Linked DNA regions of Homo sapiens. The protein of the gene in region 1 interacts with the protein of each later gene in a biochemical or structural test. Each region holds a gene or a part of one and is shown in the gene's direction. Other genes may lie near its edges.

Region 1 (3,500 bases):
CCACTGCAAGCTGGTGTAAATAGCATTTTTCTTTCATTTTAGTGAGCAACAACCCTGTAAACAAGTAGGGCTTAATTTATTATATATTTAGCTCCTTGTTTCAGGATTAATTCCTCAATTAAGGATAATGCAACAGGCTTTTGTGTTACATTCACTACTGTTTTTTTGTCTTAGCAGGAAGCTGAATGCTTTTAAGTGAAAAAAATTAATGCATTATTAAATTGCAGGAAAAAAATCAAGCAGGTTGCAAATGAGACTGATAGGGCATTCTCAGAGGTCAGAATACCCAGAAATCACATTTGCTACAGATTTCTCAATTGGATTTCCTGTGATTTGGTGAATACTCTAAAGAGGCATAATGCCTTGTTTGTAGGAAAGATGTCTTGAAGATAATTAGTCATTTTTTAAGATGAGTATTGTGATAGGGAGGGAAGAAAGTGTTTGGAGTGTGACGAATCATCATAGGGAGAAAGCAAAAGAAGGTGAATGACAGAGTGAAAATGGGCAAGGGGATTTGGATGTGAACGTGGGGAACTGCTCATATTTTAAGAGTAGGTATTCACTCCCCTCCAACAATTCCTTTGGGTACACCTCCGTATTACTGAACCAGATCCTCATCTGCTGGACAGGGCACAGAACCTTGGGAAGGTGGTTTTTGTTGTTGTTGTTTAGTTTTATTTTATTCTTAGCTCTGCTAGAACTTTGCTGCAAATTGCTTTCTTTATCTGATCTCTGCATTGAGAAAACTGGAGAATATTTTCTTGCTTTATGGAAAAAAATGTAATATTCTTAAACGTTTCTTTCATTTCCTCTTGATTTTTAGTCATTTAATACAAAAACATTTTCTCAGAAGGCTCTGTTGACAGTTTCTCTTCCATTGTCTTGAAATGTTTGTTTGAATATTTAACAGAGGCACAAAATTCAAAAATCAAAAAGTTCGAAGTTAAGTCTTCTTTTACTGTCTCCCAGTCATGCAGTATGCACTCCATAATAGCAATTACTGTTACTAATTTCTCTTGTAATGCTTCCTGCATACATACATGCACATATACATATTGTCTCCCCCTGCTCCTCACAGTTAGTTCCATTGTCTTTTAAGGAAGACTTAAAATAATTTGAGGATTTGGATTCTCATTCTAGATCATCTTAGATCAGTTAGTTACCCCTTTTCCTTAAGAAATACATAATGCCTCTGTTTTATTTTTCTTAGTAAAATTTATATTCTAATTTCTTGGCTTATTTAATGTGCAAGTTAGTTTGGGCTGAAGCAGCCTTTCCTACTAACCTACATTGCTTTTAGGGTTTTCCTTATAGAATTACCTGTTAAAAATAAAAGTGCAGGGGGAGACATAACCTTGAGAACTATTGGTTCATTGCTGTCTATGAGTGAATTCTAAATCGCCTGCTTGACCACATCAGTCAACAAATATTTAGCGAGTAGCAACTATGGGATATATAAAAGATAGACCTTATGTTCTAGGAGCTTATTTATTTTGTGAAATAAGTCATAAACACAAAATGTTAAATAAGAAAAGATTTTCATAATGGTTGATGATTAAAAAGTTGGAAAGGATTTATTGCTAAATAAATGGTATAGTTAATAAATTGATTTTTTAGGAAAGAGAGAGCATTTCAAGTTGGTATGATTAGAGACAGGTTGATGGAAGAAGCATGATTTGAGCTGGGCTTTACAGAATGGTTGGGTAGAACAGTGTGAGCCAAAGTGAGAAGGCAAGAATGTACAAAGTGTTTTGGGGGAGCAGTGAGAATCTCCTTGTGGCAGATAAGCCTGCAAAGATAGGATAGAGTTAGCCAAATATTAAGGACTTTTTGAAGTTTCATTCATAACATGGAGAATGTAGAATTTAGAGAGTATAGAATGACAGATGATCAAAGCTATACTGTAGTGTTTTAGGAATATTGGGCAGCAGTGTCTAATTGGATGGAATAGAGCAAGGAATGGACATCCACTTAGTTGGCTCTTTGATTTGTCCCAGCTGTGTAGTGATGAAGGGTTGGAGTAGTGTAGTGGTTATAAGGATGGGAAGGAAGGAAAGTAAATATAACTTTGTATATGTGTGTTACATGAATGTGTGTGTTTAACGTTTTTCTAATGTTAGAAATAGTTTATAGGAAGACTCAGTAGAACTCAGTGAATGACTTTACATGGGAGAAAAGGGAGAGGGAATAAAGATTATTTTACTGTTTTAAAGATTAGAGATAGAGAGTCTCCTATTTTGAAAATCTGGGGAAGTATGTTCTGTAATCCATGGTAGTCTGGTCCATAGCATTTTGGTTAACAAGCTGTCTTTATTTCTAATTTTCTAATTGTTTCTCTGCAGAGGGTTTTCTTGAGCTTTTAATGTTATTTCTTGTAGGAAAACTTGAATCTTCTGAACTTTATTATCTAAGCTCTCACTGATAAAGATTATTTAATCTTCGTTTGTGGGTCTCTACCCTTGTTTTGGAGTTTTACATTCTGTCCATTCATAGACACTTAACTTGTCATTTTCGTTGGCATTCTCAACTCACCTTCAGTTTGGAGGATAAAGGAACAAGAATTCTATACCTTTTTATAGACTTGGTAAATGACTCTTTTGTCCTTACCGAAACTCAGTATATTTGATTTTTTGATTGTTTGTTTATATCCCATGTGCTTCATGACAGCCATACTATTTGAAATTGCAGGCTGAGTTAAAGGTAGTAACTGAAAGGATTTTAGTAGGTGAAAGCAGAGGGAAAGAAAAGGCCTTATCAGCCAGTGATGTTGCTTTCTGTTTCAGGTACTGAATCTTAGGCCGTGTATGAAAAATGTCAGACTTGACTTGCATGATCTTCTTGGTATAGCTGGGGTACAAGACGGTGGCCAGAGGGCCCTAACGTACAACTTGAGTATACAGTGGTAACTTAGAGCAAAGGCAGAACTCAGGGAGCTTGGGTTCTGCTACTGCCCTTTCTCGTCAGAAATGATCATTGAATGAGAAAAAATAAAGGGTTACTAGATTATCAGAACATGGACATCAAAATAATAGAATACACCAAGAGAAAAAAAATTAGAAATTTAATGCAATTTTTAAATCTCATTTAATTTGTTAAAATTATATTTCTTCTCACCACGAAAGTTACTGAGTTCTTGCAAATTCCATTACATTTACCACAGTTTGCACTCAGACATTTGGCAGAAGTCCCCATGGTTTGCTGTGGAACCAGTAGAGCAGGCACAGTTCATGTACAAGATGTTAATAAATTTAGCACTCTATTTAGGGTATTACCCAAATTACCCTTACAGTAATTCTATTAGGAGATTCTCTGTGCAATCCCATTATAAGTGCATACCTTTCTCCTAGTTTGAATGCTCAAAGTAACAGTAATTAAGAACTGTTATACAATAGTCTCTTGGAAAGGCATTCTTAAGGTAGCCTGGGATGAGGAAAGTCCATAAACACCACTTAACTGAATGATGGCAATCTGTTTTATTCATCTGGATGTTCTCATGCAAG
Region 2 (3,500 bases), on another chromosome or scaffold:
ACCTGTGTTCCCAGGAAAGTCTTATTTGGGGACACAACACAGTTATTTATATCAAATGAAAACTTTAAAAATGAGTTCTAACTGTCCAAGTTGAGAAAATCCAAATTGAAACAAACAACAAGAAAAGAAAAACTTGATTTTTTTTTCAGTTATTGTTCTGGGTGTGTTAAAAGAGTGGTTTTTGGAATAATCTTCAAATCTACTGTTCTCTACTTTTCAACTAAATCTGAGCTTTTTTTAAAAAAATTAATGTTATTGTTTGTTGTCTCTAAAACAAAGTGCACTTTGCCATTAGGCTTTATCTTCCCTTGTAACCCTCCCTCCAACCCTCTGTAACTGTCATTTCTGTTTTCTACATGAGGAAACAGATTCAGAGAGGCTAAGGAATTTCACCAAGGTCACACAGCTAGTAAGTCATGATGCCATTCATGCTCTGAGATGCCTGATTTAAGAAAGCCGTGATCTTGGCTTCTGCCCATACCCTCTACCATGCTGCTTGATTAGTTTCAGAAAGAAGCACGGAGACCCAGAGCTCACCAGAGCCCCATTGGAGCACCTTGACACACAGTCACTGCAGCCTCCTTGTTAACCGGTAAGCAGCAAGGCCTAAAGGGTGCTGTGAACTTGATGTGAGACATAGGTGTGGGGGCTATGGTACCTTATTTCTTTACTGATTATTAGTAAGAAGCCTCTTGCTCCTCCAGAAAATGCCAATGCTATTCCATTAACAGATGAAGAAGCCACATTTAAGCAGATCCGAAGCCAAGATAATGAGGGGCCTGGTGGCAGCTGTGCTGTCAGGGCATCCTGTTTCCTCTGGGAACCATACTCAGGCCGAGTGGCGGAGCAACAACATGCCTCAATATTGTTGCCATTATCCATTGCCATACCATGCTGCATAACAAGCAACCACAAAACACAGTGGCTAAAAGCAACAATTATGAATTTAGCTCATGATTCTGTGAGTTGGTCATTTAGGCTGTGCTCAGCTGGGAGGTCTTCTAGACTCTGCTGAAAGCCTTCCTGCCTTTTTGACTGTCTTCGGCTCGGCTATCCAGCTTCTCCTGCGGGGTGAATGGCCATTGTCTGGGAAGCTCTGGCTCTCCTCCACCAGCAGGTCAGCCTAGGATTGTTCTCGTGACAATGGCAGAACTGACAGAGAGGAACTGAGAGAGAGAGAGAGAGACAGAGAGACAGAGAGAAAGAGGAGAGAGAGGAGAGAGGACGGCAAGGTGCATAAAGCCTTCAGAACTGGTCTTCCATCATTTCCACTTCATTCTGTTGGCCATATCAGGCCTAAAGGCCAGCCCCATTTCAAGGAGTAAGAAATAGACTCCATCTCTTGATGGCAGGAGGCTGCAAAGTCGGATTGCAAAGGGTGCAGATCAGGGAGAAGAACTGTGGACATTTTTGCAATTGTCTAACTTAGGATGCTTGAATCAGATCAAAACCTAGATGGGCTCATATCTTCCTGGACCTGGAACGGTGTTTATTTTGAAGTTTGGGTGATTTATTTATTCACATGGTGACCTGTTGAGGGCTGTAACAGTGTCTTGTCATAGTTGATGTCAAATCCACAGCTGACGCCCTGATTGGATATCGTAGAGTTTATCTTGCAATACTTTTTCCTGCCATTTAAAACTTTATTTTCCCAATGAAAACAATTTTTACCCCCTGATTCCTTAAACAATATATTTTATTGTCAAAATATTTTGAACAACATATCAAATTCTAAAGAAGCCAGAACTGCTGCAGTCCCATGACCTGCTGGGTGGTTGCTCTAGACCTGGGGTCCTGGCACCACAAACAGAGAGGTAAAGCCATGGGGTGGAGAAGTCGACTGTGCCTTGTACCTCCAACCCCACCCCACCCCAGTGGCTGTGCAGCCTGGCTTCTCCAGGCCTCAGCTTCCCCCACTTGAAAAATGGATATAACTCCCCCATAGGTGGGGGAGAAGGTGACATGCATCAGTGGGTGCACCCTGCCCAACTGAGCCCCTGTGCGGGTGGTCTTTCATGCCATGGAAGCCCTTGCCATTGCTAAGTGCTTCACCCCTTCTCAACCCCTGGCCAGCGCTCTTCCAGGAGCAGATCCCCAGGACCAGCAGGCGGGCCGGAGGCTCAGCTCTGGATCTGTGCACTCGGCAGCAGACAGCTCATGGCCAACAACTCCTTCTCAGAGGGGTTTTCTGCAAAGAAGGAGCAAGGTAAGCAAAATAAGGCTGAAGGACACTCCTCAAGGAGGCTTGAGCAGGGAGCTGTGGGTGGCTGGCACGGTGGCTGAAAATGGGCAGGGTCTTCTAGGGGACAACTTCCCTGGGCTGAGGTTTATAGGATTGGACTAACATAAACCTGAAATTTGCAACTTAGGGCATAGGCATTCACTGAGTAGCCTCACTGGGGAAGGCTCTATGGGGGACGCTGTATAAGATGTAGGGTTAAAGATGCTGGGTCCCACCCTAGAGGAAGCCACCGGTGCGCAGGGTGGTGGCAGAGCGTGCTACATGATTCGAGAACTGACAAGGCAGAATGTGTTTGGAAGGGGCCTTCTGCACAGGTGAAAGGTGGGAGCATAGATCCAGGGCCGCAGGGAGGGCTTCTATAGGGAGGAGAGAGTTATCCTTCCAGCTGGCTAACCCTAAGAGGGTAATAGGGTTAGGCGGAATGTGCCTGTCTGTCTGTCAAAGTTAGTTAAGGTCCCTTGACTGAGCTGAGCTCCAAATAGCCTCAGGATGTCCCTCTTCCTGTTTGGCCTATGGTTCCCATACGCTGGCCTGGCCCGCACTGTCCTCCTTGGCCCTTCTCTGGCCTCCATGAACTTGGTGGAGGGCGTGAAGAGGGCTTCTGAGAGGCTTTGTCCACCTCCTTTGGCTTTTCTTCCTGATCACTCACTAGAGATACTTCTATTGGGAACTCTTGCAGGACACAAGTCACTTCTGGGCTGGAATTTTGGCCTCTTGGGACAAGAGTCCTGCTAGGTACCCTTGGGGGCACTATAGAAGCCCTACCCAACCCTATCTCTTGCTGGTTATATGACTCAGGTGAGCTTCTTAAGCTTTTTTTTTTTTTTTTAAAGGTGAGGAGCCTCAACTTCCTCACCTGTAAAATGGGTTGAGAATATGCACCCCACAGGGGGATAGCTGGGTCTAGCTAGTGATGGGTATTGCAGTGTTTTCTGGGTCAAGTGTAATACAAACACACTGAGAACAAGAGGTGCCCACTAAGCTATTGATTCAACATCTAGAGCTAGAAAACATTTCAGCTCATCTAAATCTAAAAGTATTTTTGTTTTTTCAAGTATTTTTATTGCATTTATATTTATATTATACATTTTATACTTTTGATACATACAAAAGATGGAGTTCTGTGTAAATTATGAAACTTATAATTCACCCCGAACACCCCTGTACCCAACTTAAGAGCCAGAATGTTGCTGATACCCTATACCCACCTGTAAGACTTCTGCTCCAAGATGTACCATTCAGCTGGGGCCTCAGCCCA
Region 3 (3,500 bases), on another chromosome or scaffold:
ACCCGGGGCCAGGGCAGTGGGGCACCTGGTAGCCTGGCCTCTGTTAGAGGCCTCCAGGGCCGCTCAATGTCCGTCCCAGACGACGCCCACTTCAGCATGATGGTCTTCAGGATTGGCATCCCGGACCTGCACCAGACAGTGAGTACCTGCCCACTGGCCAGCGGCAGGAGAGGGACAGTGCCCCAACCGACATGGGGAGTCCACTGGTGCTGGGTATCCTCCCAGGAATCACCCCCACACTCAGCTCCTGGCTCACTTCCCAACCCACCTCAGGCTCTCCTCTGGCCCCTGGCCCACCCTAGCCCCTATCTCTTCCCCAACCAGAAATGCCTTCGCTTCAACCCCGATGCCACCATCTGGACGGCCAAGCAGCAGGTGCTCTGTGCCCTGAGCGAGAGCCTGCAGGATGTGCTCAACTATGGCCTGTTCCAACCGGCCACCTCCGGCCGCGATGCCAACTTCCTGGAGGAGGAGAGGCTGCTGCGGGAGTACCCCCAGTCCTTTGAGAAGGGGGTCCCCTACCTGGAGGTGAAGCTTCCCCAACTCCTTCACTGATAAGAGAAGGCATGCCCTAAAACACATCTGCCCCCCACCCACTTTTTAACACACTCGAAACCTTAACGAGGGGGCACCCAGTGTGCGAGTCCAGACCTTCTAAGCATCACAGGGAAGTCAGAGAGTCCTGAGTTCAAATTACCATCTGTTCTGCTTCTGACCAGCTAAGTGGCCTTGGCCAAGTCACTTTCCTGCCCCAAGCTTCTCCTCACCCATCAAATTGGGGGAGGATTCCCAATTACAGTAGGCACTCTAGAACATTCCCTGTGGGGTCCAGACTCCTCCTCCTTCAAGGCAGGGGTTGCAGTGCACATATACCATAATACCCAGCACTGTCGGAAAAGCCACTGCCACCCATCTACCGCCTAGACCAAGGTTCCAGGGCTGTTTTCACTCCCACCCTGAGCTACCCCGGGGAATTAGAAGGGGATCAGACCTTCCCCTACCCCAAGCCTTCTCCCCAGGCCCCTGATTCCAAGTCTCTGTGTCTCTCTCACTACCCTACCCTTGACCTCAGTTCCGATACAAGACCCGAGTTTACAAACAGACCAACCTGGATGAGAAGCAGCTGGCCAAGTTGCACACGAAGGTGAGAAAACCCTGCTGGCATCTATCCCCTATAGCCCCCTACCACTGGAGCCCCCTACCCAACCACTTTCTCTCCCCACCTCTTCCCAATAGACCTCCACATTCCCCAAGCCAGCGATCCCTCTGGCCACTGCCCCCGCTTAACTTGGGATGCTGTACCACATTTGAGACAACCACAAATACCCCCCATTATCCCCATCACAACCCCTTCTTACTTTCCTCTTTTGCCCTTCATCCCTCTGCCTGGGCCCACATCATTCCCACCTGGCCTCCTTTGAGTCTCCCTTCTCTTCCCCTGCCTCCCCCCATATCCATCCAAGGCCTCTTTACTTCCCCACCTTGGCCTAGGACCCTGACACTGAAGGTCCTTCTGCCTAGAGTCTATTTCAAAGACAGGCTACATTTCTCCCAACCTCATAGCCTGAATCTCTGCAAAATCCAACCATTACACCCCCCTTTCCAGCCATATCTGTCCTCCTGGTACCTTGCCCGCCAGTCCTCAGCCCCTGTCTGTCCTGTGTCTCGATGGTGAGAGCTGGGAGGAAATCGGGAACTGCTTTGGTCAGAAATGAAGAACTCTTGATCCTTGAGAAGGAAAAACTCCCAGTCCCTCCTTGTCTACCCTCTCCCCACCACAGCATGCATTGAACTCTTTCCTCCCCTAAATGTTCCATCCCTCCAGACTTTCACGGTCCACTTTGGGAACCACTGGCCAAGTGTGGCTCCTGAGTGCTTGCAGTGTGTTTGGTCCCAACTAAGACTCGCTGTGAGTGTGAAATACACACTGGGTTTCAAAGACTTAGTACCAAAAAAAAGTTAAATAACCTCATTAATAATTTTCATCTCAATTACCTGTTGAAACAGTAACATTGTAGCTATATCAGTTAAATAACATATATCATTAACACGAATTTCAACACAACTAACACTTCACCCCCAACCACCCTGATTTTTTTTTTTTTTTTTTTTGAGACGGGGTCTTGCTCTGTCACCCGGGCTGCAGTGGTGCAATCATGGCTCACTGCAGCCTCAACCTTTCAGGGTTCAAAGGATCCTTCCAGCTCAGCCTCCCGAGTAGCTGGGACTACAGGCGTGTGCCACCACAACCTGGCTAGTTTTTTGCATTTTTTGTAGAGATAAGGGTCTCACTTTGTTGCTCAGGCTGGTCTCGAACCCCTGGGCCCAAGTGATCCTCCCGCCTCGGCCTCCCAAAGGGCTGGGTATTTTCTCTGTAAAGGAGGCTGCTAGAAGCTTTTCAATGGCGTATGTGACTCCACGTATATTTTCACTGGACGTCGCTGCTTGAGGACCCTGCTTCTCTGCCTTGCTCCTGACTGTCCTGTCTTCTCTCTCTTTGCCCATGGCTCAGACGGGGTTGAAGAAGTTCCTGGAGTATGTGCAGCTCGGGACATCTGACAAGGTGGCGCGGCTGCTGGACAAGGGGCTGGACCCCAATTACCATGACTCGGATTCGGGAGGTAGGGAGGGGTGCGCATCAGGAGGACCTCAGGGCCAGGACAGAGCTGGGGAGCAGGGGTGCCATCTGCATTCACATCCATTCCTGACTGGTGTCTCCCAAACACATTGCTGTCCAAGGGGGAGGCCACGGGGCCAGAGGCTGTGGGGTGGAGAGCTGCAGAGCCTGGAAAATGGGAAGGGATGGAGGGGAGGAGAAGGGGCTTCATGTGACCAGCTTTTCCCGCCCTTCAGAGACCCCCTTGACACTGGCGGCCCAGACCGAAGGCTCTGTAGAGGTGATTCGAACCCTGTGCCTGGGCGGGGCCCACATTGACTTCCGGGCCCGGGATGGCATGACCGCACTGCATAAGGCCGCATGCGCCCGACACTGCCTGGCACTCACGGTGAGGCTTCGGGGACCCCCCATCCCCGCCATGGGGCCCTCTCTCCTTTTCCCTTTGTTCTTTCTCAAACCTCAGTTCTTTGGTTTCAGTTAAAAATAGGCCCTCTCATGTCCCCAGTTCAAAGCCCCTTTCCATAGACTGAGACACAGCCCCTATTGTCACCCTTGTCAGGCCCCCCAGATGCACCCACCTGGGCTATAGCTGACATCACACAGACCCGGGCACGGCCTCCTCCCCTAAACACCCAGAACGTCTCCATCCCCTGTGGCCCAGCTTAATACCAAATCTGCCTCTGTCTCCCCAAGGTGTAAACCCTTCTCATTCCTTAAAATACGAAGTGAGCTCCCTGCTATGCCCCCAGATAGAGCCCCTCCACACACACCCTGAAAACAGCCCCCCAGCTACCCTTCCAAACCAGCACTGCACCAGCTCCCCTCCCTCCTCTCTCACATGCAAATACAGCCCCTTCCCCACGTACACAGCCTCAAATGCACT
Region 4 (3,500 bases), on another chromosome or scaffold:
GGAAATGCCTTTATTTATCCTGGACAGGTGTGGCTGGGCCTGCAACATGAGCTGCCCTTTCACCCCACCCCAGCCAGTTCTCCAGGAAGTGGAGAAGGGGGAGCAGCCCAGAGAGGGAGCAGCTCCAAAGGCCTCTGCCCTGGCAGCTGGCCAGAGGCTGGGGCTGTGGTCTGGGGTCTCACCTCTTCATGCCTCTCATGCCTCCGCCTTGGGGAAGAGGAGTATGCTTTGTTAGGCTCTGCTGCTCTCAGCTGTGTCACCTCAGAAGTCTGTTTACCTGCTCGGCCTCAGTTTTTCTCACCCTTAAAATGGGGATAGCAGGCTGGGCGCGGTGCCTCATGCCTGTAATCCCAGCACTTTGGGAGGCCGAGGGGGCAGACCACTTGAGGTCAGGAGTTTGAGACCAGCCTGGCCAACATGGTGAAACCCTGTCTCCACTAAAAATACAAAAATTAGCCAGGTGTGGTGGTACATGCTTGTGATCCCAGCTACTCAAGAGGCTGAGGCAGGAGAACAGCTTGAACCCAGGAGGCAGAGGTTGCAGTGAGCTGAGATCGCACCACTGCACTCCATTCTGGGGGCAGAGTGAGACTCCATCTTAAAAATAAATAAATAAATAAACAAATAAAATGATGCCTTCCACACCTGTGAGAGCTCTTTCTAACAGGCACTTGTGAAAACTTTCCACCTGTTGTCTACTGGGACTGGTTGTGAGACTGGTGGAGTCGGGGGCTGAGCCTGGGCCCAGGAGGGGCCTGCCTGTCTACTGGAAACCCTCTCTTCCTAGGGTCTCAGCCACCCCGCCTGCAGGCTCACCTGGAGCACCAGCTCAGAGGCCTCTTCTCTGTGGGTTTCGGTTCCAGTATTTATCAGACTCTCCCAGCTGTGGTGGGAACATGCTGAGGACAGAGGGTCTCTGGGGAGAGGAAGGGGGACAGGCTGAGACTATTCTGGGGTAGCTGTGCCGGCAATTCCTGGAATTTCGGGGCCGCTGGAGCACGCAGTGCTGTTTCTTGGGCAGCTCTTAGCAGTGCTGACAGGCCGTGCTGTTTATAGCCGCACTGAAGGTCAGGCAAGCCTCCGAGGGCTTCAGTGGGGCTGGCAGGGGCCTCCCTGCAACATCTATCAACAGGGGAAGATAAACGGCCAGAGGCTCAGAGGCTCACAGCTGGGGAATGCATTCTTAGAGGTCCCCCAGGCCAGGTCCTCCGGGCTGCTCAGAACTGCATCTAACTCTGTGAGGGATCCAAAAGGAGAGGACATGAGGCTGGCTGGGTCCTGGGGAATGAATTGGACCCTTGGAGGCCCCTGGGCCAGGACACCGTGCAAGGGCAGCTGCATAAGCAGCCCCAGGGCTCCGGGCCTACAGATATTGTGGGGTAGCCAGTGTCAGGACTGCAGGGCTGTTTGAGAAAGGCTGGGCCAGGCTCTGCTGGGGGCTAGCTCCCCAATTCCCTGAGTCTCCTTCCCTTTCTGCATGGTCCCCTCTCATCCAGAGGCTGCCCCTGACTGCAAAGACCCTCCTCTACACTGAGCCCTCCCACCCCCAAACACAGCTTTGGCACCCCTTTGGGACCAGGCTCCACCTCTGCCCAGGAACCATCCTTGGACACAAGAATGGGCCTTGCTGGGGGCCCTTGAGAGCCAGTGCCCATGAGGGCATTTTATTGGCCACACCCAAGACCCAAATGGAACTGTGGACCTGGACAGGAGGAAGAGAGGCAGGAGAGACTCAAGAGACACTTGAGGAAAGCCAGGGGAGGTGTGGTCAGCTACAGAGGGGGCAGTGACCCGTGGCTTTGGACACAGAAGGTCATTGATATGCGTGGAATAATGGGGCCAAAGGCAGACGGCTGTGTGTGAGCAGGTGGGAGGCAGCGGCAGTGGGGGCAGGATGTGTGGGTCACTTCTTGGAGGAGTCTGGAGGTGCAGAAAGGAGACATGACAGGAGCCAGTTGGAGCCACCCAGGCAGGCAGGGAGAGGCTTTTTGAGCATTGAGGGGACTCCGGCTTATTTATCGGCCAGGGTGGAGTTGGGGAGTGGGACCATGGGGAGACAGAAGGTTCCAGTGAGAGGGTGAGCATGAGCAAAGCCCCAGGGGAGGCCAGATGGGAAGGCAGCAGAGCAGGACAAGACAGTAATTTAATCATACAATGAAAATGCACTTTGTCCCACCTGCCCCAACCCAGGCAGGCAGCCTGGGAGTGTGGGGAGGGGGAGCTGCTGAAACTTGTACCCTTCCTACTTATCTGCCACCTGCCCCAGCCTCCACCCACCACATCTACACTGGCACATCTAGAAGAGGAGGAAGGCAGGGGCCTGCCTGGTTTGAACACCGGGAGTGAATGATGGCCAGAAACGTCTGCAGAGCCCAGCTGCTCTCTCTGCTGCCAGGGAACTGGGAAAATAGGAGCCAATGGCATGGGTGCGTCTGAAGCCTCACTGGTGCCTTCTTTCCCCTGGGCCTTGGACAGAAGTTTCCTCCCCTCCCCCCAACACCCAGGCCCCTCTAGGGACAGCAGGCTGGCTCAGAACTGGTCAGTCAGGGCTGGCTCCTCAAGCTCCACCCTCTGCCAGCTGTGGATCTTGTTTCCTGTGGAGCCCGGGGATGTAGCCAGCCAGCCTCACACCTTCTGGGGGTAGCAGATGGGGTCAGCACTGTGCCTCCTGGATTTGGAGTTTTCCTGAAACTCTCTCAGCTCTGCACCCTCCTTACATAATCCCCTGTTTAACGACATAATCCTCACAACAATCCCGAGAAAGGCATTGTCATTCTCTTGACACTGGAGGGCTTGGAGGCTGGCACCGAAGTCAGGGGCCCGGCCCATACTGGCACCTGTGCTCCTCCTTTGCTGCCTCCCCGCCCCCAGCCCCCAGCACTCACAAGTGGCTCTGGCACCAGCTCTCCCTGGGCTGCCCTTGGAAGTGCCCTAAGACCTTGGCCCAGCAAGGCGGAAGGGCTCCTGGGGGCAGGGAGCTGATCTTGGCCTCCAAACACCTGCAGCCTTTCTTGGGGGCTTTGGAGACAGGAGCTCGGTGCCCCACCCTGAGGCCATTCTAGGCTGCACCCAGGGTTGGGTTTCCAGGGTTTAGAGGGGCCCATTGGCGGGAGAAGACTGAAATGTGAAGTGGGAATGAAACACTCATTCAAGGGAGGCATTTAAATGCTCAAAGGCGGCTAGAAAGATTAAAAAGAAAAAACCACAGCTCCAAGGAGTTGGGTGCTTTGGGCCCTTTCTGAAACACAGAAAGGAAAGAGGAGGATGGAGTCAGACAAGACAGACGTGGAAGCATCGTGCCTGGACTGCACTCTCCATGAGCCCTGGACTCTGGGCAAGGGTCTGAGGGTGCCCCCCTCCAACCCACCCAGGCAGGCTGCTCCTGAGGTGGGGTGAAGGCATCCGATGGCTCCTGATCATCCATAGGGTCCCTGCCTCCATCCTGCCTGAAGCACCTCCCTAGAGGAGGATATCAGCACCCCCAGCCCCCACCCTGAGGG

What was found. Proteins that work in one complex are often made in the same cells at the same time.
Region 2: the proteins of SCN8A (region 1) and FRMPD2 interact in a test that uses a peptide from one of them, tested with the Homo sapiens proteins (one large-scale study listed by IntAct).
Region 3: the proteins of SCN8A (region 1) and SHANK1 interact in a test that uses a peptide from one of them, tested with the Homo sapiens proteins (one large-scale study listed by IntAct).
Region 4: the proteins of SCN8A (region 1) and LDB3 interact in a test that uses a peptide from one of them, tested with the Homo sapiens proteins (one large-scale study listed by IntAct).

What each region holds. Positions count from the first base shown.
Region 1 is NC_000012.12:51,597,733-51,601,232, forward strand, and holds part of SCN8A (sodium channel protein type 8 subunit alpha), read left to right. Parts: intron 1-3,500. UniProt on the Homo sapiens protein: Pore-forming subunit of a voltage-gated sodium channel complex assuming opened or closed conformations in response to the voltage difference across membranes and through which sodium ions selectively pass along their electrochemical gradient.
Region 2 is NC_000010.11:48,236,697-48,240,196, reverse strand, and holds part of FRMPD2 (FERM and PDZ domain-containing protein 2), read left to right. Parts: intron 1-504; coding exon 505-592; intron 593-2,073; coding exon 2,074-2,206; intron 2,207-3,500.
Region 3 is NC_000019.10:50,713,303-50,716,802, reverse strand, and holds part of SHANK1 (SH3 and multiple ankyrin repeat domains protein 1), read left to right. Parts: coding exon 1-138; intron 139-324; coding exon 325-528; intron 529-1,072; coding exon 1,073-1,144; intron 1,145-2,512; coding exon 2,513-2,621; intron 2,622-2,853; coding exon 2,854-3,005; intron 3,006-3,500. UniProt on the Homo sapiens protein: Seems to be an adapter protein in the postsynaptic density (PSD) of excitatory synapses that interconnects receptors of the postsynaptic membrane including NMDA-type and metabotropic glutamate receptors via complexes with GKAP/PSD-95 and Homer, respectively, and the actin-based cytoskeleton.
Region 4 is NC_000010.11:86,671,511-86,675,010, forward strand, and holds part of LDB3 (LIM domain-binding protein 3), read left to right. Parts: intron 1-3,500. UniProt on the Homo sapiens protein: May function as an adapter in striated muscle to couple protein kinase C-mediated signaling via its LIM domains to the cytoskeleton.